Linked DNA regions of Homo sapiens. The protein of the gene in region 3 purifies or fractionates together with the protein of the main gene of each other region. This does not show direct contact. Each region holds a gene or a part of one and is shown on either strand. Other genes may lie near its edges. The genes, in order: PAXBP1, NCBP3 and RSRC1.

Evidence for each region.
Region 1: the proteins of RSRC1 (region 3) and PAXBP1 purify together in Homo sapiens (affinity purification with mass spectrometry; 3 studies listed by BioGRID and IntAct, with this or other methods). This does not show direct contact.
Region 2: the proteins of RSRC1 (region 3) and NCBP3 purify together in Homo sapiens (affinity purification with mass spectrometry; 3 studies listed by BioGRID and IntAct, with this or other methods). This does not show direct contact.

The regions. Positions count from the first base shown.
Region 1 is NC_000021.9:32,768,677-32,775,816, reverse strand, and holds the start of PAXBP1 (PAX3- and PAX7-binding protein 1), read left to right. Parts: upstream 1-4,061; 5' UTR 4,062-4,148; coding exon 4,149-4,491; intron 4,492-5,874; coding exon 5,875-6,003; intron 6,004-7,140. UniProt on the Homo sapiens protein: Adapter protein linking the transcription factors PAX3 and PAX7 to the histone methylation machinery and involved in myogenesis.
Region 2 is NC_000017.11:3,815,230-3,822,340, reverse strand, and holds part of NCBP3 (nuclear cap-binding protein subunit 3), read left to right. Parts: intron 1-288; coding exon 289-388; intron 389-988; coding exon 989-1,092; intron 1,093-3,768; coding exon 3,769-4,078; intron 4,079-6,070; coding exon 6,071-6,225; intron 6,226-7,111. UniProt on the Homo sapiens protein: Associates with NCBP1/CBP80 to form an alternative cap-binding complex (CBC) which plays a key role in mRNA export. NCBP3 serves as adapter protein linking the capped RNAs (m7GpppG-capped RNA) to NCBP1/CBP80.
Region 3 is NC_000003.12:158,113,035-158,120,145, forward strand, and holds part of RSRC1 (serine/Arginine-related protein 53), read left to right. Parts: intron 1-7,111. UniProt on the Homo sapiens protein: Has a role in alternative splicing and transcription regulation. Involved in both constitutive and alternative pre-mRNA splicing. May have a role in the recognition of the 3' splice site during the second step of splicing.

The DNA.
Region 1 (7,140 bases), on a different chromosome or scaffold from region 3:
ATGGAGAAACCTTGTCTTTACTAAAAATACAAAATTAGTTGGGCGTGGTGGTGCATGCCTGTAATCCCGGCTACTCAGGAGGCTGAGGCAGGAGAACTTCTTGAACCCTGGATGCAGAGGTTGCGGTGAGCTGAGGTTGCACTACTGCACTCCAGCCTGGGCAACAAGAGCAAAACTCTGTCTCAAAAAAAAAAAAAAAAAAGTCAAGAAGTTTTAAAAAATGTCTGGGCACGTTGGCTCATGCCTGCAATCCCAGAACTTTGGGAGGCCGAGGTGGGCAGATTACTTGAGGTCAGGAGTTCAAGACCAGCCTGGCCAACACAGGAGCTTGTGGGGTGTGCGGATCATCTCTACTAAAAATACAAACATTAACTGGGCATGGTGGTGCACGCTTATAATCCCAGCTACTTGGGAAGCTGAGGTGGGAGGATTGCTTGAACCTGGGAGGCAGAGGTTGCAGTGAGCTGAGATCACGCCACTGCACTCCAGCCTGGGGATAGAGTGAGACTCTGTCTCATTGCTTGAACCTGGGAGGTGGAGGTTGCAGTGAGCTGAGATCGCGCCACTGCACTCCAGACTGGGTGACAGAGTGAGACTCCATCTCAAAAAACAAAAACAAAACAAAACAATAACAACAAAAAAGTTTTAAAAAATAAGAAAGCTTATAAAGTAAAAAAGTTATAGTAAGCTATTTATTATTGAAGAAAGAAATATGTTTAAACATTTAGTGTAGCCTAAGTGTACAGTTGTTTATAAAATCTACAGCAGTGTACAGTAATAACCTAGGCCTTCATATTCACTTACCACTCACTCACTGACTCACCCAGAGCAACCTCCAGTCCTGTAAGCTCCATTCCTGGTAAGTGTCCTATACAGGTGCACCATTTTTAAAGCTTTTATGCTGTATTTTTACTGTATCTTTTCTATGTTTAGATACAGATACCATTGTGTTACAAGTGCTACAGTATTCAGTACAGTAACATGCCGTATAGGTTTGTAGCCTAGAAGCAATAAGCTATGCCATACAGCCTAGGTATGTAGTAGGCTACACCACTAGGTTTGTGTAAGTATGTGATGAAATTGCCTAATGGCATATTTCTCAGAATGTATCCCCGTCAAGTGACAAGTGATTGTATTGTGGCTTACTTTAAAATGAGAGGTACTCTTCCCTCTATCCATATCCAATCACCACTTTTACACTGGGAGAAATTTTTGAAATTTCAGGCCACCATAATAACATATTTGGCTTCTGGACCTTGTCTTTGCTACCTCTACCCTAATTATTTTACTGCAAATCTTTCTCTTGGCTCAGGTGTCTGGAGGCTGATCAGGCACAATTTGAATCTTCTATGATTAGAAAAGGGAGTTCAATTTCACTAGTGAAACACTGTTGGAATCAGAACTTACACCAATGCTGAACAGCCAGAATATAAGAACTGAGAGTAACATAAGTAGAATGGAAGCCAGATGTTATTAACCCTTCCTATTAACTAGAAGAAAATGTTAATGTTATAGAGGATGCTCTTAGCTCCAAAACTGAGTCCTAGTTGTGCACATGTCAAATCTAATTAAAAATATAAAAATTAGGCCGGGTGTGGTGGCTCATGCCTTAATCCCAGCACTTCAGAAGGCCGAGGCAGGCGGATCACAAGGTCAGAAGTTTGAGACCAGCCTGGCCAACGTGGCAAAACCCCGTCTCTACTAAAAATACAAAAATTAGCCAGGTGTGGTGCCAGGTGCCTGTAATCCCAGCTACTCGGGAGGCTGAGGCAAGAGAATCGTTTGAACACAGGAGGCAGAGGTTGCAGTGAGCTGAGATCGTGCCATTGTACTCCAGCCTGGGCGAGAAGAGCAAGACTCCGTCTTAAAAAACAAAACAAAACAAAACAAAAATACAAAAATTAGCCGGGTGTGGTGCCAGATGCCTGTAATCCCAGCTACCCGGGAGGCTGAGACATGACAATAGCTTGAACATGGGAGACAGAAGTTGCAGTGAGCTGAGATCGTGCCACCGCACTCCAGTCTGGGCCATAGAGCAAGACTCCGTCTCAAACAAATAATAAATAAATAAATAAATAAAATAAAAAGAAATGCTTGGAGTGCTCGGGATCTTCCACTTCAACCTGGAATTTAAATCTTACTGAAATTTCTACAGGATGGTGTGGGCAAACAGGCATCCTAATGTTTGCTGATATAAGTGCAAACTGCATAACTTCTATAAAAAGAAATTTAGAATTAGCAAAATCATAAATGCATATATTGAGATCTAGCAATTTCAATTCTATTTCATCCTACAGATGTAACAGTTTTTCAAAGCTTTTCATTACAGCACTGATTAAGACTAGAAATAATCTAAATATCAATGTTTATGGAACTGGTTAAATAAATTACGGTATATCCCAACAATGAATCACTACGCAGGTGGGTTAAAAAAAAAAATAGACGGCCGTGCGCGGTGGCTCACGCCTGTAATCCCAGCACTTTGGGAGACTGAGGCGGGCGGATCACGAAGTCAAGAGATTGAGATCATCCTGGCCAACAGAGTGAAATACAAAAATACAAAATAAATTAGCTGGGCGTGGTGGCACGTGCCTGTAATCCCAGCTACTAGGGAGGCTGAGGCAGAAGAATCACTTGAACCTGGGAGGCGGAGATTGCAGTGAGCGGAGATCGCGCCATTGCACTCTAGCCTGGGCGACAAGAGCGAAATTTAGTCTCAAAACAAACAAACAAAAAACCAAAAAAACACAACCCTTCATATACAGATATGGGCCGATCTCCAATCTACGGTAGGCTAAAAATGCAGCTTACACACCATCTGTGTAAAAAGGGGAACACATTAAAATATGCATATTTATTTGCTTTTATGTTCATGGAACATCTTTAGAGGATCATAAGAAACTGTTAACATTGCCACTGAGGAAGTGAACAGCCTTCCAGACATGGGTGGATTTTTTTCACTCTACCGAATACCCTTTTAATTTCGAAACATCAAAATGAATTCGCATGCACAGGTGCATGCCCGAAGGAAAAACTTCTAGTTCGGTGATGAGATAGGGAAAGCCGGTGAGTTCAACCTTAGGCGCAATCACCCTGTGAAGGTGTGGCCAGCGAGGGCTTTGTCACGCAAGTCTGAGAACTGTCACAACCTTCCCCACCCCCTGCTCTATTTTCCTTCCACTTGTTTCTGAAACTCACTAAGCTTTGGAAAGTATTTAGTCATAGAATTGCTTGCAAACTTGGCATTCTTTAGAAAACACGGAAACACTTTTGCTTTCCTTGTTCCTGAAAGACTGGGGAACGGGGGACATCAAGCCAGGTAACATTGTATCATAACTGAAATTCAATGTCTTTGAAGTAACATTGTACCATAAATGAAATTCAATGTCTTTGAAGTAACATTGTATCATAAATAAAATTCAATGTCTTTCTAAGAGCTCTGTAGCTATAAAGCTGTAGAAATACAAAGTATTACTCAAGAATAACTAGTAATTACCAATAGTCACACCTCAGGTCAAAGTTTGGAGAGGACTATTCCACCTACTAGATCACACTTTCCTTCCCGAAAGCCGCTTCTCTCTCTGGCCTCTCCCCTCCTCCTCCTCCCTCATCTGTTTGGCGGGAGGCTTCCTCACATTACCGCTCCGCGTAAGTGCGAAGACGCACTGCAGCAGCGCCGTCTGAGGGACAACAGAGCCTACTCTTTCTTCTCATCTCTATGATCCTCTTTGTGACCTGTCAAACAACACCAGAGTTCCATGCTAATAGTACTCCACTCCGACAGAGAGCGATGCAAAGAGCCGACGCTCTCGCGAGAGGTGTGGGGCTCTCTCTCTCTCTCTCGCTCTCTCTCTCTCTCTCTCTCTCGCTCTCTCTCTCTCTCTCTCTCTCTCTCTCTCTCTCTCTCTCTCTCTCTCTCTCTCTCTCTCTCTCTCTCTCTCTCTCTCTCTCTCTCTCACTCTCTCTCTTTCTCCAAGTATTGAGAGCGCGTGGGAGCATAGGCGCATGCGCGCTCGTGGGGTGCGCGGTAGCAACAGAGGACTCGACCCGGCTGGAGCTCCGGAGAGCGCGCGTGCGCCGTCACGAGCTCGGCGCTGCCGGGGCCGCGGTGTGGAAGCGAGTATTCGACCGCCGTGCGGGCCGCGGGGATGTTCCGAAAGGCCCGGCGGGTGAACGTGCGCAAGCGGAACGACTCCGAAGAGGAAGAGCGGGAACGCGATGAGGAGCAGGAGCCGCCGCCGTTGTTGCCGCCGCCGGGCACGGGCGAAGAGGCGGGCCCCGGTGGCGGCGACAGGGCCCCTGGCGGGGAGTCGCTGCTGGGCCCGGGGCCGTCGCCGCCTTCCGCGCTGACCCCGGGCCTCGGGGCTGAGGCCGGGGGCGGCTTCCCCGGCGGCGCGGAGCCCGGCAACGGGCTGAAGCCGCGCAAGAGGCCTCGCGAGAACAAAGAGGTGCCCCGGGCCAGCCTGCTCAGCTTCCAGGACGAGGAGGAAGGTAAAGTGCGCGCTTCGGACGCCCTTAGACGGCCGCATCCCCGACGCAGGCCCCCGTCCCCCGCCCCCGTATTCTCTGGACGCCCAGCCCCGGAGCCCTGGAACGGAGTCCCCTGCCGTCCGACCGGCTGCGAATCTTCCCCAGCCTCCGGCCTTCTGCTCGGGCAAGGGACGCGTTCCCGCGCTGCCCCCAGCCTTTTCTTAACCACCTCCTCTGCCACGGGGCCGGAGCTCAGATCAGGCATTCAGAGTGTTTCAGGGGAAATTCGGTGTTCCCTGTCCTGCCTCTTTTCTGCCTGGCGTGTTTCAGGGCCAACTTGGTGTGGGTCCCCTGGCTGCTCTTGGCATGCTTTCCGAGCCCTCTGCAGGTCACTGCGCCCACACTTCTTGGATGCTCTGTCCAGGCATCCTCGACCATGAAGGCCGAGTTTGTAAAAAGGAATACTAGGAGAGGGAACAGAAGCCTGGAGTTGCAGCTCTGGTTCTGAGTGACCTTGGGCCAGTCCCTTGCAGTCGCTGAGCCTCAGTTTACCCATAAAAGTAATTAGGGGTAGCAGATACCCAGCCTTCTTCGCACTGACTTTGGGAACAGTGAAGCGAGACGGTGTAAAAATAGTAAAAGCAAGGTAGTTTCTCCAATTCCTGTGGGAGGCCAGGCTGCAGTGGTTTTAGATTGCTGATCTTAAATGAGCCTTAAATCTTTTCTTCTGACCATTTGAATGTGCATAACCCAGTTAATTCCATGTTACGAAAAAAGAAATTAAGTTTTGTAAATCTTGCATTTTTATTCGAGAGGTTTCCAGTAAGGTAGGTAGTTTATCTTTGGCATTTCTGTTACTCTTTATTTGGTTTGAGAGGAGTACAGACAGATTTTTGTTTTTGAGATACATGAGCTATTTTTTTTTAAGTATTTAGTACTTTTAAAATTTCAAATCAAAGAAAAGTGATTTGCCCTTACCTTAGCTTTAAAACCACTATGTCAGCTTGTGGTGGATGTAGTTACTCAGAATTGACAGCACCTTTTTATTTTAGATATTTTGTTTCGGATTCGTTAATAACTTGGTGATGTGGTTTTTCAGAAACATTTTGAATGATTTTTTCCCCTCTCAAATAGATGATTTAAGGACGACAATAATAGGAAAATTTTGTGAAGTTACATGTGCTATTCCTTTAAAAAGTCTCAAAAATCTCATTACTTCACAGTAATTTAGGAAGTTGACCTCTGTTTTTGAGTCTGTGACAGACTTGAAATAATTATACAATGATTTTGGCATATGAGTATATATATTTGGGATAATTTGGACAGCACGTAAGATCATGTGAAAGAAGGGAAAATATTTTCAGAAAATAGTTGCTACAGACTTCATTTAATTTCCTTTTTAAGAAAATGAAGAAGTTTTCAAAGTGAAGAAATCAAGTTATAGCAAAAAGATAGTAAAATTGCTCAAGAAGGAATATAAAGAAGATCTTGAAAAATCGAAGATTAAGACAGAACTCAACTCATCAGCTGAAAGTAAGTACCAAACTAATTGAATTCTTTTGAAATGACAAAATGAAAGCTCTTTCTCACAGTGATTTGCTGTATATCTTCTGAACTCATTCAGTGGACCCTGTGGTTGTCAAGGGCCCTTATTGAGTAGCAGTACAGTTCTGTTATTTAATTGTAACACAGATGCTTTGTAAATGTATTTTATAAGAAGACAGAATTGTTGCCACTGGAACATTTCTGCTGCAATGACTAGATTCTCTCACAGTTTTCCTACTTGTGTGCAGACTGCTGTTGAACAGAGAAAGAAGGTTTCTCATTTTAGCCTAAGACACAGGTTTATTTCTGTTTGAAGGAGTGTTGTGCAAATTCTTGTATTTTGTAGAGACAGATTTGCGATTTCTTTGGTGGTATTTCCACAGTGGATTTTATTCTTAGAGAACTTTTAGGAATGCCCTAAATTTAATATTAGTATTACTCCCATTCAGCAGCCTTATCTGATACTAGATGAAGACTCCTTAGAATAATGAGGCAGGTATATTGTACAGACATCTCTTACGTCTCTCAAAACCTCAGTTTAAAAAATTTTAAGCGGTTATTTTGTCTTTAGGAAAGTGGATCCAGTATAATATTCTATGGTCTGAGTTATTCTCCTGCAAATGCTATTTTATTTTATGGAATTAATGAGAAAATCATGATTTTCCAGATTCTCACTTACAGGCTTATTGTGAAAAAGTATGGCTTTGTATCTCAAATTTACAATCTAGATGTGAAGACAATATCTCATAAATGTGTAAGAGGACTCAGTGTTTGGCAAAATGTTCAATCAGTGTTCCAAAGGGTGGCTACTCTTTCAGAGGAGAGAGGACTGCTTTATGGAAAAAGTGGGACTCGAAGATGGATCTTTGATAGTTAAAATTCCGAAAGGGAAGGTATTGGGGGTATGATCAAGGATTAAAATGACTAAAGCTGTTTTGGAAAAGAACAAGTACACCTGACAGGTCAGAGTAGATGATTTGTGAAGGAAGTAGTTAGAAGTTTCATGTGAAAGATACGTTGACAGATTGTGAAGGATGTTCAGTATCCAGTAAGGGTTTACATTTGCTACAGTGGCTTGCCAAGATGGTGACATGATAAATGCGTTTTGAAACTTTAGCCTGGTAT
Region 2 (7,111 bases), on a different chromosome or scaffold from region 3:
TGCCTTTTGGAACCTTGTATCTTGTATTGTTTATTTTTGTTTTCTCCATTAAGTCATCTGGCTCCAAACAGCAGTTTTAACCTCATTCGTCTCTGTATTTTGCTTTATCCCCTCTACACTGCATTGCTGTAGTGGGCACTCAGAGTGTGAATGTTGGTAGTGGATTTTTACTTTTTGTTGGCAAATTGCGCTGATCTGATTCCAGCTATGGAAAACATTAAAAAAAAAATTCAACATTGTCTTTACACTCACAGGAAATCCTAGGTAACTATTGTCATTAATTTTTAGATGACAAAAAGGAACTTGGAGCAGCCAGAAGAAGTCAGTATTACATGAAATATGGGAATCCAAATTATGGAGGCATGAAAGGAATTCTTAGCAATTCATGGTGAGTCCAAAACCTTCAAATGCAATAGTATTTGAGTTTTTCTTAATCCTTCAGTTGGTATTCCGTGGTGAAATGTCTAAACCCTGTGTAAACTGGAAGGAAAACAAGAGGGAAGAATTCAAGATTCTTAGATGTGGTAAATGATGGGGAATGCTGAATTGTAGTTACATTTAAAATATCTGTGTTAGTACCTAACATTGTGTCAACGTGTAGTTGAAATGAATTAGCGAGCCCAGACATGGTGGCTCACGCCTGTAATCCCAGCACTTTGGGAGGCCGAGGCCAGCAGATCACCTGAGGTCAGGAGTTCGAGACCAGCCTGGCCAACATGGTGAAACCCCGTCTCTACTAAAAATACAAAAATTAGCCATGCATGGTGGTGGGCGCCTGTAATCCCACCTACTCGGGAGGCTGAGGCAGGAGAATTGCTTGAACCCAAGAGGCAAAGGTTGCAGTGAGCTGAGATGGTGCCATTGCACTTCAGCCTGGGAGAGAGATTGAGACTCCATCACAAAAAAAAAAGAAAAGAGAAAGAAATAGTGGATTTCAAGGTCCTTCCTATCAGTTTTTGATTGTGTGCTTATTTTGGCATTCTTGCAGGAAGCGAAGATATCATTCCCGTCGTATTCAGCGGGACGTGATCAAGAAGAGAGCCCTGATTGGGGATGACGTTGGCTTGACGTCGTATAAACATCGACATTCTGGTAGTTGCCTGCTCAGCTCTTGGGTAGACACATGTTTGGCTCCTGAAATCATATTTTTATTCTTAATGCAATCTTTTAAGGTTCCAAACTTTATCATCCTCTCTTCCTTGCCCTCACCCTCTGCCAACATATAGGAAAGTAAGTCAAGTCACAATTAATTTTAAGTTGCCCAAAGAGGTCAAATGATTTTATAAAAGCTGTTCTATCAAAAAAGGCAAAATATGACATAGGAAAAATTAAAACAAAACTTTCCTTAGGATCCTAATTTTTCTACTATTAATATCAACAGCTGCATGAAAACAATTTTTTTTTTTTTTTTAAGACGGAGTCTCGCTCTGTCTCTCAGGCTGGAGTGCAATTGCTTGATCTCGGCTCACTGCAACTCTGCCTCCTGGATTCAAGCAATTCTCCTGCCTTAGCCTCCCGAGTAGCTGGGACTACAGGCATGCGCCACCATGCCCAGCTAACTTTTGTATTTTTAGTAGAGATGGGGTTTCACCATGTTGGCCAGGCTGGTCTCGAACTCCTGACCTTGTGTTCCACCCACTTTGGCCTCCCAGAGTGCTGGGATTACAGGTGTGAGCTACCGCGCCTAGCCAAAAACAATTTTTGAAATTATTTTATCAGATGAACTGATTGTATTGTTCTTTTTCTGTATTAAAAATAGGCTGCTGTGTTGAGTGCTTTGTGCTTGTTGGTTTGTGCATGTGAATGCCTCAGAAGAGTGGGATATCATGACTTGGGTTTCTTTCTCCTTTTTTTGGTGCTTATTGTAAAAGAACCATTTTATTTATGTTTTATAAAGAATTGTTCTTGTTTTGAGCCTAATCTATGGAATCTTCTACATGCCTAATAGAACTAGTCAAGTCAGCATACAAAATAACATATACACACATTTATCATTGTAATGGGGACAGAAAGGGATGAAGTCTAGATGTTTTATTTAATGTGTATATACAAAATTGTATATTTGAGATCTACATGTTAATAATACACATAGGATGGGAACAGTGGCTCACACCTATAATCCCAGCACTTTGGGAGGCCAAGGCAGGAGGATCACTTGAAACCAGGAGTTTGAGACCAGCCTGGGCAACATAGTGAGACCTTGTCGTTACAAAAAATTAAAAAATTAGCCAGACCAGGCATGATGGCACATACCTGTGGTCCCAGCTACTTGGGAGGCTGAGATTGCCTGAGCCTGGAAGGTCAAGGCTGCAGTGAGCCAAGATTGTGCCACTGTATTCCAACCTGGGCGACAGAGCAAGACTTTGTCTCAAAATAATAATAATAATACACATACTTTACTGTTACACAGTTACACTTTTCCAATTTGAGTTACTTTAAAATATTTTCATCATATACTTTTTATATCCATATTAAGGAAATTAAAAAGCAAATTGCCCCTATTTCTAGTACCCTGTATGATGACTGAGTTCATCTTACATTTTTCCCATTTGTTTTCATAATAAATAGTATAACTCTTGGGAACATGTACTTTATATTCTACTTCTTTCGTTTATTGTATTTTTCCATTTTCATTATTCATGGTGCTTATGTTCTATAAAGTCACTGTGAACACTGAAGTAGCAAATACTGAATCGTACATAGCCTCTGGCCACATCATTTTTGTCAGTTGATCAATATGTAACCTTGTTTTACATATGTTTCTCTCTTTTTTTTTTTTTTGAGACAGAGTCTTGCTCTGTTGCCCAGGCTGGAGTGCAGTGGCGCGATCTCGGCTCACTGCAACCTCCGCCTCCCGGGTTCACGCCATTCTCCTACCTCAGCCTCCCGAGTAGCTGGGACTACAAGCGCACACCACCATGCCCGGCTAATTTTTGTTGTATTTTTTAGTAGAGACAGGGTATTAGCATGTTAGCCAGGATGGTCTCGATTTCCTGACCTCGTGATCTGCCCACCTCGGCCTCCCAAAGTGCTGGGATTACAGGCGTGAGCCACCGCGCTGGGCCCATATGTTTCTCTTTAAGACACCTTATTTAAGACACATTGTTGATTCGTTAACATTGAGTTCACAGCCAGTAGCCCTATAACTCATGCCTGAATGCCTTACCTGATATGGTATTTTTCCACAAGGCACATCACAGCCCCCTTGCATCTAGGAACACTAGGCAGCACTTCGGCACGACACTCAGGGCCATTTTAAGCAGTGAAATCACTAGCAGCAGGCACAGAAGTGTGAAAAATGTGCCACTCGGTGGACTGAAACAGACGCTTGTTTACAGCATGAGATGAAACAGGAAGGTGGAGTGTTGCTTTGTTTGACCTCCACTGGGAGTGTGTGTGCCTGGTGACTCAGATTTTTTTGCCACTCTGTGCGTGCCAGCAAATGACCATGGAAGCATTGCACGTATTCATTTTGGAGTTACAAATAAATTTGGTAAATTTGCAAATACAAAATCTGTGAATAATAAAGGTCAGTTGTATTTTAAATGACTTTATGGTATTTGGTTAGGCTGCTGCATCATACTTTACCTAGCCATCCTCCTGTTGCAGTATCAGAGTAATGTCCATTTGGCACTATTATAGATAGTGCTCCAATAAAATGTCAGGGATGGGAACCCCACCTTTTAAAAAGGTCACCGATGTAGAGTAGAAAATCATACTTGTTAATTTTAGTGCTTTTCCTAATGTTTTCTGGTTAAATTTCTTCAGGGCTAGTGAATGTTCCCGAGGAACCCATTGAAGAGGAGGAAGAGGAGGAGGAGGAGGAAGAGGAAGAGGAAGAAGAAGACCAGGACATGGATGCAGATGACAGAGTGGTGGTAGAGTACCACGAGGAGCTCCCGGCTCTCAAGCAGCCCCGGGAGCGGAGCGCGTCTAGACGATCCAGTGCCAGCAGCTCAGACTCAGATGAAATGGACTATGATCTAGAACTGAAAATGATTTCCACGCCTTCACCAAAGAAAAGCATGAAAATGACTATGTATGCTGACGAAGTGGAATCTCAGTTGAAAAATATTAGGTAAAAATTTGTTTTATCAAAGCTAGCTTTTAATTTGATTTTAAATACTAGTATAACTTCTTAATTCCTCCTAATTTTATAATATCTTTTATCTATTCTGATTTCAGTCCCTTGTAGGAGTTTAATAAACGCATCCAGTATTTCCTCTATACAAGCAGTGATTCTTGTTATAAAAACAAAAGACAACATAGAAAGTGAAAATCATCTGTATTCCCATTCTTTCTCAACAATAACTACTGTTAGCAATTTGGCGAATAACCTTTCAGCTATTTGTGTGTGTGTGTGTGTGTGTGTGTATGGCACAGGGAAAAGCTGTAGATATATTTGTATAAAAGTATACTTTTTATAAAGATGAGGTTATGCTATTTATAGTTTTGCATTGTGCATTTTTCACTTAATATATTGTAGACATTATTTTTTTCAACTGTATATAGTCTGTTGTTTGAAAGTATCATGATTTATTTAACGAATTCCTTTTTGATGGACTTTAGGTTTCTATTTTCTTACAATTGCACTAACTCAATAAATTCCTCAAAGTCCAGTTATTACACAAAACAATATGTGTTTAAAAAGATGGTAAGTATTGCTTTATTTTTTTCCAGAAGGGTTTTTTGTGTGTTTTTATTTTTTTTTTGAGACGGAGTCTCGCTCTGTCACCCAGGCTGGAGTGCAGTGGCGCGATCTCGGCTCACTGCAAACTCCGCCTCCCAGGTTCACGCCATTCTCCTGCCTCAGCCTCCCGAGTAGCTGGGACTACAGGCGCCTGCCACTACTCCTGGCTAATTTTTTGTAATTTTAGTAGAGACGGGTTTCAGCATGTTGGCCAGGATGGTCTCAATCTCCTGACCTCGTGATCCACCTGCCTCAGCCTCCCAAAGTGCTGGGATTACAGGCATGAGCCACCATGCCCGGGCTCAGAAGGGTTTTAATCCCAGAAGGGTTTTAATCACTCACATTACCACCTGTTACCTACAAGCTCACCAGCCTTAGCTATTACCATTCTTTCTAATGCTAGCTAGTTTCATGAACAAAAAAAAAATAGTTATTTTAATGTGCATGTCTTTGATTACTACTAGGGGTGAGCAGATTCTGTGCAGGCAGAATCCACAGTTCTAAGGGTTAGAGTCTAGGGATGCTCTGTGTAACGTAGTATGTTTGTGGGGAGGGGAAAAGACCATTCAAGCTGATTTGTTTGTATGGCCTTGTTCACCACGTTCTTTTTTTTTTTGAGACGGAGTCTCGCTCTGTCGCCCAGCCTGGAGTGCAGTGGAGCGATAACACGATCTCGGCTCACTGCAAGCTCCGCCTTCTGGGTTCACAGCATTTTCCTGCCTCAGCCTCCCGGGGAGCTGGGAGTACAGGCCACCACGCCCAGCTAATTTTTTGTATTTTTAGTAGAGACTGGGTTTCACCATGTTAGCCAGGATGGTCTCGATCTCCTGACCTCGTGATCCGCCCGCCTCAGCTTCCCAAAGTGCTGGGATTACAGGCATGAGCCTGTTCACATTCTTATTTTTGGTTTTCAGAGAGCTTTCTGGTAGAGAATGCTGCCGGAACGGTGCTGGCACCTAGCATGATAGCATATCTCTTTGAAAGAGAAGTCTGCCCTTTAAAGAGAGAGACTGTAGACTATACTGTGTGTTGACTACAGCCACATCACAGCATGTGTAAGTGGAAGCCCCAATCTCTTTGTAGGCCTCTACTTAACGTTTGTCCCAGAAAAGGGGGACTTGTAGTTGTATGCTGTGTAATAGCACATACACATGTGGAAACCACCTTCGAAAACCTGCTCACCAGAACCAGTCTCTTTAGAGCAGGCAGATCATGGTTTCCATAAGCAAATAATTATAAGTTTATGGATTTGTAAGTGAATGTTGGCCATGTAAGACAGGATTTCTTAAATTGTTTCCTCCAAAGTATGAGATTGTTGTTTGGGTCTTGTCTCACAGTTGAAGTTGGTTAACTGTGCCCCATCCTACCCCCTTTTTAAAGGAACTCCATGAGGGCAGATAGTGTATCTTCAAGCAATATCAAAAACCGAATTGGTAACAAATTACCACCTGAGAAATTTGCAGATGTCCGACATCTATTAGATGAGAAACGTCAGCACTCCCGTCCACGGCCACCAGTCAGCAGTACTAAATCAGGTACTGTTCCTCACTTGGATTCCTGGCTGGATTCTGAGCTCCGGAAAGCAGACTGGGGCAGAGAGAGGTTCCTGAGTAAAACATGCGATGTGTGAACTGATTTAGCTGTCCTGGTTCATCATGTCTAAATTGTGGGCTAGGTGTTGGAAATTGAGGAAATGAAAAATAATCAGACTTCTGAAAAACTAGCTTTAAATGTTTTTATTCCAAATAATTACAGTTGTTCCTTGGTATGTCTGGGGGCTTGCTTCCAGGACCCCCTCCCCGCCCCCTACAGATACCAAAATCCATTGATGCTTAAGTCCCTTATATAAAGTGACATATTATCTGCATATAACCTACACACATCCTCTCATATACTTTAAGTCATCTCTAGATTATTTACAATACCTAATACGGTATAAATTCTTATCCTGTGTTGTGTAAAATTTGTATTATTTTTTGCTGTACTCTTATGTCTTACTTTTTTTCCACATGTATTCGATCAGCAGTTGGTTGAATCTATAGATGTGGAATCCATGGATGAGGAGGGCCAACCATATTTTCCTCTGTATGACACTGGTATACTTTATATACAAGAATAATAGAAATTAAGTTCGGTGGTTGTCTGAACAGTTAAGAGTTTGAACTAGATAATTTCTATGTTCAAACACTGATTCAGCAGGTCTTTAGCCGTACCTGCTATGTGCCAGACCCTGGTCTAGGTGCTAGGAATGTGAGAAGCCTTTGGAGGGGACGCAGAGCCGTCATAGATCTACTCGGGAAGTTGTGAAAGACTTCTTAGAGAAAGTAGCATTAGAGCCAGGCCTTGGAGAGGGTAGGATCTCTGTTGGCAAACCTGATTTTTTTACATGAGAAGTAACCTGATCTTACATCTATTTTAGAA
Region 3 (7,111 bases):
AGTCTATCATTGATGGGCATTTAGTTTGATTTTGTGTCTTTGCTATTGTGAATAATGCTGCAGTGAACATAAACGTGCATGTGTCTTTATAACAGAATGATTTCTATTCCTTTGGATATATACCCAGTAATGGGATTGCTGGGTCAAATGGTATTTCTGGTTCTAGGTCTTTGGGGAATCACCACACTGCTGATTCCTCAAAGTATCACCCGTTCTGGACAATGCCTGTGACATCATCTTCCACAATGGTTGAACTAATTTACATTCTCACCAACAGTTTATTAATAAAAGTGTTCCTGTCTCTCCACAGCCTTGCCAGCATCTGTTGTTTTTTGACTTTTTTTTTTTTTTTGAGACGGGAGTCTCACTCTGTCACCAGGCTGGAGTGCAGTGGTGCGATCTCGGCTTACTGCAACCTCTGACTCCCTGGTTCAAGCAACTCTCCTGCCTCAGCCTCCTGAGTAGCTGGGATTACAGGCACGCTTCACCACGCCCAGCTAATTTTTGTATTTTTAATAGAAACAGGGTTTCACCATGCTGGCCAGGATGGTCTCCATCTCCTGACCTCGTGATCCACCCCCCTCAGCCTCCCAAAGTACTAGGATTACAGGTGTGAGCCACTGTGCCAGGCCATTTCTTGACTTCTTAATAATTGCATTCTGACTGGCATGAGATGATATCTCATTGTAGTTTTGATTTGCATTTCTCTAATGATCAGTGATGTTGAGTTTTTTCTCATATGTTTGTTGGCTGCATAAATGACTTCTTTTGAGAAGTGTCTGTTCATGTTCTTTGCCCATTTTTTAATGGGATTCCTTTTTTTTTCTTGCAAATTTGTTTAACTTCCTTATAGACTCTGGATATTAGACCTTTGTCAGTTGTATAGGTTGCAAAAATTTTCCTCTATAGATTGTCTGTTCGTTCTGATGATAATTTCTTTTGCTGTGCAGAAACTCTTTAGTTTAATTAGATCCCATTTGTAATTTTTGTTTTTGTTGCAATTGCTTTTGACGTTTTTGCCATGAAATCTTTGCCCGTGCCTTTGTCCTGTATGGTATTGCCTAGATTTTCTTCTAAGGTTTTTATAGTTTTGGGTTTTACATTTAAGTCTTTAATCTATCTTGAGTTAATTTTTTGTGTAAGATATAAGGAAGGGGTCCACTTTCAATTTTCTACATATGGCTAGCCAGTTCTCCCAGTACCATTTATTAAATAGGGAGTCCTTTCCTCATTGCTTGTTTTTGTCAGGTTTGTCAAAGAACAGATGGTTGTAGATGTGCGGTCTTATTTCTGAGTTGTCTATTCTGTTCCATTGGTCTATGTGTCTGTCTTTATACTAGTACCATGCTGTTTTGGCTACTGTAGCCTGGTAGTATAGTTTGAAGTCAGGTAGCATGATGCCTCCAGCTTTGTTCTTTTTGCTAAGGATTGTCTTGGCTATATGGGCTCTTTTTTGGTTCCATATGAATTTTGAAATAGTTTTTTTTTCTGATTCTGTGAAGAATGTTAATGGTAGTTTGATGGGAATAGCATTGAATCTTTAGGTCACTTTGGGTGGTATTGCCATTTTCACGATATTGATTCTTCCTATCTGTGAGCATGGAACGTTTTTCCACTTGTTTGTGTCCTCTCTGATTTCCTTGAGCAGTGGTTTGTAGTTCTCCTTGAAGAGGTCCTTCACTTCCCTTGTTAGCTGTATTCCTAGGTATTTTATTCTTTTTATAGCAGTTGTAAATGGGAGTTCATTCATGATTTGGCTCTCTGCTTGTCTGTTGTTAGTGTATAGGAATGCTAGTGATTTTTGCACATTGATTTTGTATCCTGAAACATTACTGAAGTTGCTTGTCAGCTTAATAAGCTTTTGAGCTGAGATGATTAGGTTTTCTAGATATAGGATTATGTCATCTGCAAAGACGATTTGACTTCCTGTCTTCCTATTCGAATACCCTTTGTTTTTTTTCTCTTGCCTGATTGCTGTGGCCAGAGTTTTCAATACTATGTTGAATAGGAGTGGTGAGAGAGGACATCCTTGTCTTGTGCTGGTTTTCAAGAGGAATTCTTCCAGCTTTTTCTCATTCCGTATGATATTGGCTGTGGGTTTGTTGTAAATGGCTCTTGTTATTTTGAGGTATGTTCCAAGGAAGGACTTTTGTTATCTTTCATTAACCTGTGTTAAATGTAATCAACCAGCCTTCTATTATGGATAAATTATGTTGTTTGTAATTAGAACAAATAAAAAATTTATACTCGCCTTCTCCTGTTCTCTCTTTTTGGTCACCCCCAAGACAGATAGATCTGTGTCCCTTCCTTTTTTTCTGCTTGTTTGTGCCTTACTCAGAGATGTAGTATAAAGGACAGAAATAGAGAATGGGAATGACTGTAGGTATCTTAGAGCAGAGGTTCTCAAACATTTTAGTCTTAGGGTCTCTTTACACTCTGAAACATTGTTGAGGACTCCAATAACATTTATTTGGATTATATCTATGAATATTTACCTTATTAATTAAAACGAAATTTTGAAATCTTCATGAATTCATTTAATAACAATAAACCCAAAATATGGTAACATAAATAGTATCTTTGATATGAAAAATAACTGTGTTTTCCAAAACAAACTTAGTGAGAAAAGTGGCCTATTTTCCTTTTTTGCAAATCTCTAATGTCTGGTTTAATAGAAGATGGCTGGATTCTCATATCTGCTTCTTCATTCAATCCACTGAGATAAATTGTTTTGATTGAAGTTTGTGAAGCAAATCTGGCTTTACTCAGATAAGTGTTTTAGTAACCCTTTTCAGGTAATTATGTCTTTCGTATTACACCAAAAATTGATTGTGTTAATTTCTTGAAGTTCTGTTTTAATATGGTTTTTGAAACCATATGGATAACCTTTGGTACTCCATTATGTTAAAATCTATTGGTCTGACTTACACTCTGAGTGGATCTTTACCCACGCATGGTTTTGTGACATTTTGCATTGGCCATTTGGAAAATATTGGCTCACTGAGTTAGGCATATCTTTCTAATGTTAACACCCTTCATTATATATCAAAAATTCATGTTTGTTAATGTCACCGATGATCTCGGAAGTTTTTAAGTATTCAGAAGCTATCATTCTCATGGTGGCAATACAAATTATCTAAAATTCAAATTTTTGCTTGCAAGCTTGAATTTTATCATCAGCAATGAATACTCTTTTCCTTGAAATGGAAGGATCCCTTCATTTTCAAGAAAAGGTTTTCCAGATACTCAAGTCTGCATAATTATAGTGAGTTTTTAAAATAAAATAATGTTTCATAATAAAAGCAGCTAATTCAAGTTGCAATTCAGTTACACAAATGCTTGTTCTTGAAATAACCAGCGTTCTTCAATATATGGCAGAAGTTATGTGTATCTCTCATTTCATAAGAATATTAAAAAGATGTGTATGTACTCGAGTGGAAATTTAGTAAAATTTATGATTTTTACTGCTTTATTGAGGACATTCTTAATTGAAATTGCTTTTTTTTTTAAACTGTGACTGTATGGCAGTGAGGGATACAGTGACTACTAAGTATAATTTGGTGCCTCTGCCTTGATTTGTGCTAAGGTGCCAGCAGTTTTGTCCACTATTACTTTTGCACCATCAGTGCAAAAGTCAGCACAATGAAAAAGGTAAATAATGTTTTAGTGTTACAGTGAATATAGTTTTGACTTCTTGAGTCCCCTGAAAAGTGTTGTAGAGATCCCCAAGGGTCTACAGGCCTCATTTTGAAAATCGCTGGTACTAGAATGTAAGCTTCTATAGGGAAAGGATTTTTTTTTTCTTGTTTATTGATGTATTGCTTATATGCTATCAGTCTGGGATGTCTTTCGTATCTTCAGTATAAGATTACTTATATTTTGAATCTGGGTTGTCTGTTGTGATACTCTTCTTTTCATGGAGCACACTGTCGAGTAACTTCATGAAAAGGGGAGAGTGTGGGGTATAATTTTGAGACCTTACATGTCTGAAAATGTCTTTATTCTAATCTCGTAGCAGAACAGTGATTTGGCTGGATAGAGATTCTAGGTTGAGATTCATTTTCTCAGCATTTTAAAGGCTAGTCTCCGTTGTTTTCTGTGTTGTGAAAACCCATATGCCTTTTATTGTGCTACCCATATTTTTTTATCTTTAGAAATTTCTAGGCTCTTCTGTATATTCCTGGTGTCTAAAGTTTTTATGAGATATACTGGGTATGTCTTTTTAGAAAAATCATTGTCCCAGGGACTTAGGGCAATTCATCTTTCAATTCTGGAACTTTGAAACAAGGACTTATTCTGTCACCCAGACTAGAGTGCAGTAGGGTGATTGCAGCTCACTGCAGCCTGGACCTTCTGGGCTCAGGTGATCCTGCTGCCTCAGCCCCCTCAAGTAGCTGGGACTACAGGTGTGCACCACCATGCTCAGCTGATTTTTTGTAGAGACAGGGGTTTCACCATGTTGCCCAGGCTGGTCTCAAACTCCCTGGGTTCAAGCAATCCACCCACTTCGGCCTGCCAAAGTGCTGATATTACAAATGTGAGCCACCATGCCTGGCCTGGAAATTTAATTTTTGGGTAATTTTTTTTTGTCCCTTTTCTCCTGTTTTTAAAGACAGGATCTCACCCTATCACCCAGGCTGGGGGTGCAGTGGTGGGATTATACCTCACTAGAGCTTTGAACTCCTGGGGTCAAGGTGTCCTCCCATTTCAGCGTTCAGAGTAACTGGGACTACCGGCTTATGCCATTATGCTGAGCTTTTCTATTCTTTTTTTTTTATAGAATGCGTATCTGGTGCATTTTGGACTTCCAGATTGATCCTCTTCTGTTTGTAAAATGTCTGTCTCTTTTTCTTTCTTTCTTTCTTTCTTTCTTTCTTTTTTTGAGTCCTTTAACCTCTTTTCCAACCTTATTGTTTTTGTTGTCTGTTTTTTTGAGGCTGGGTCTCGCTCTGTCTCCCAGGCTGGAATGCAGTGGCACAATGTTGGCTCACTGTAGCCTCGCCCACTTGGGCTCCGGTGATCCTCCTGCCTCAGTCTCCTGAGTAGCTGGTACTACAAGTATGCATCACCACGTCCAGCTAATTTTTGTATTTTTTGTGGAGACCAGTTTTCACCATGTTGGCGGGGCTGGTCTCAAACTCCTGGACTCAAGTGATCTGTTTGCCTTGGCTGCCCAAAGTGCTGGGATTACAGGCGTGAGCCACCGTGCCTGGCCTTAATTTTAAATTTTTTTAGAGACAACATCTTGCTCTGTCACTCAGGCGGGAGTGCAGCGGTGCAGTCATATCTTTTGGACTCAAGGGATCCTCCCACCTCAGCTTCCTGAATAGCTAGTACTAGAGGCATGTGCCACCATGCCTAGCTAAGTACCTGGCCTTCTGTGTGTGTGTGTGTGTGTGTGTGTGTGTGTGTGTGTGTGTGTGTGTGTGCGCGTGCGCGTGGTTTTTTTAAATTGTCCTTTGTTAAAATTTTAAGCTATCTGTCCTATTCTCCAAATGTTCCTCCTAGTCTTGTTTGCTGGATCATCCTGTCATATGCATCTGAGGATATTAGCTGTTATTTTTGTTCTTGAAGTTTTCTTCTGTATGTTCTGGTTTACTATCATTTGCTTTTTTTCTTTCTGTTTTAGTTTCTGTCTTTTATGGTGAAGGCTTTCATCATGTTTGCTTATATTTTGTTGTATATTCAGCAAAAAGTTAACAGAAAAAATGTTTACAGAAAAATGTTATAAATACAGTTGTAACCTGTATTTAAGGTTTGGACTTGTCAACTAGTAGGCTTCATTATAGGGTGATTGGGTGGGGGCCTGCCCTTTTTGGGGGGAACCCTCAAATGCTTATATATCTTTTCTTAGGTGTTGTTCAGTTTTTGCAGATATTCAAGAATCCTCTTGAGGATAGCACACAGAGGGCTATGACTTTTCTATTTGATTATAGACTTTAACTTAACTTAATCTCTTTAACTTTTAGTTTGGCATCTCTGTCTTTTTTTACTGTGTCCTTGGACCTGGTGCTTCTTTGATTCATTTTTCTCCCCAAAATAAACGTTCTCTCCTCTGAGGATTGGGGAAGAGTATCACCTGGCTGGGTAGAATGGAGGGACTCAGGGACACTATTACATAAATTCAATCAATTTTTTTTTTGTTTTTAGCCTCATGGCCTCATTGTGCCTGCTCTGGTATCTGGTGTCTTAAATTCCTGATCCTTTCTGATTTTTGCTATGTGAATTTGCTTTTCTCTTGTTGGAATTCTCTACAGTTGCCTGATAATAAGTTTTCTTAGCTCTAAATTCTCCATGTGTTTTTCACTTGCCAAAAGTTTGTTGACATATCTCATGTTCCTGTTGTTTTCTAGTCTCTATCCTTTCAAATTTATACTTTTTAATTTCTTTAATCTTATTTTGGTATTTTTTAAAACAAGATAGCAAGATAGTAAAAGCTCATCTTAATTTAAATGGTTATTTGTTTGTGAGGAACATTCTTAAATGATTAAAGGTAAAAACAAGAAAGGAATTAAAAGCCAAGAAATGAAATTATTATCATTCAATTGTGTACATATTTCTTAACATGGATATAAGTATATGTGTGTGTGTATAATATACACACATACATATGTGGGTATCTATTTGATATATATAATGGATATATGTATATATTTTATGTATAAATGGATATGGACACATGTGAATTTATATGTATGTACAGATATACCTTATATACATCTGAATTATGTTTGTATTTAAATGTATGTTTGTATTTACATATATATACATGTTGTATATATTTATAATTTCATAGTCTTTTTTTTTTTTTTTTGAGATAGAGTCTCGCTCTGTCACCCAGGCTGGAGTGCAATGGCACTATCTCGGCTCACTGCAACCTCCGCCTCCCAGGTTCAAGCGATTCTCCTGTCTCAGACTACTGAGTAGCTGAGACTACAGGCGCATGCCACCACGCCCAGCTACTTTTTGTGTTTTTAGTAGAGATGGGGTTTCACCATGTTGATCAGGCTGGTCTCGAACTCCTGACCTCAGGATCCGCCCGCCTCGGCCTCCCAAAGTGCTGGGATTACAGGCGTGAGCCACTGCACCTGGCCACTTTCATAGTCATTTT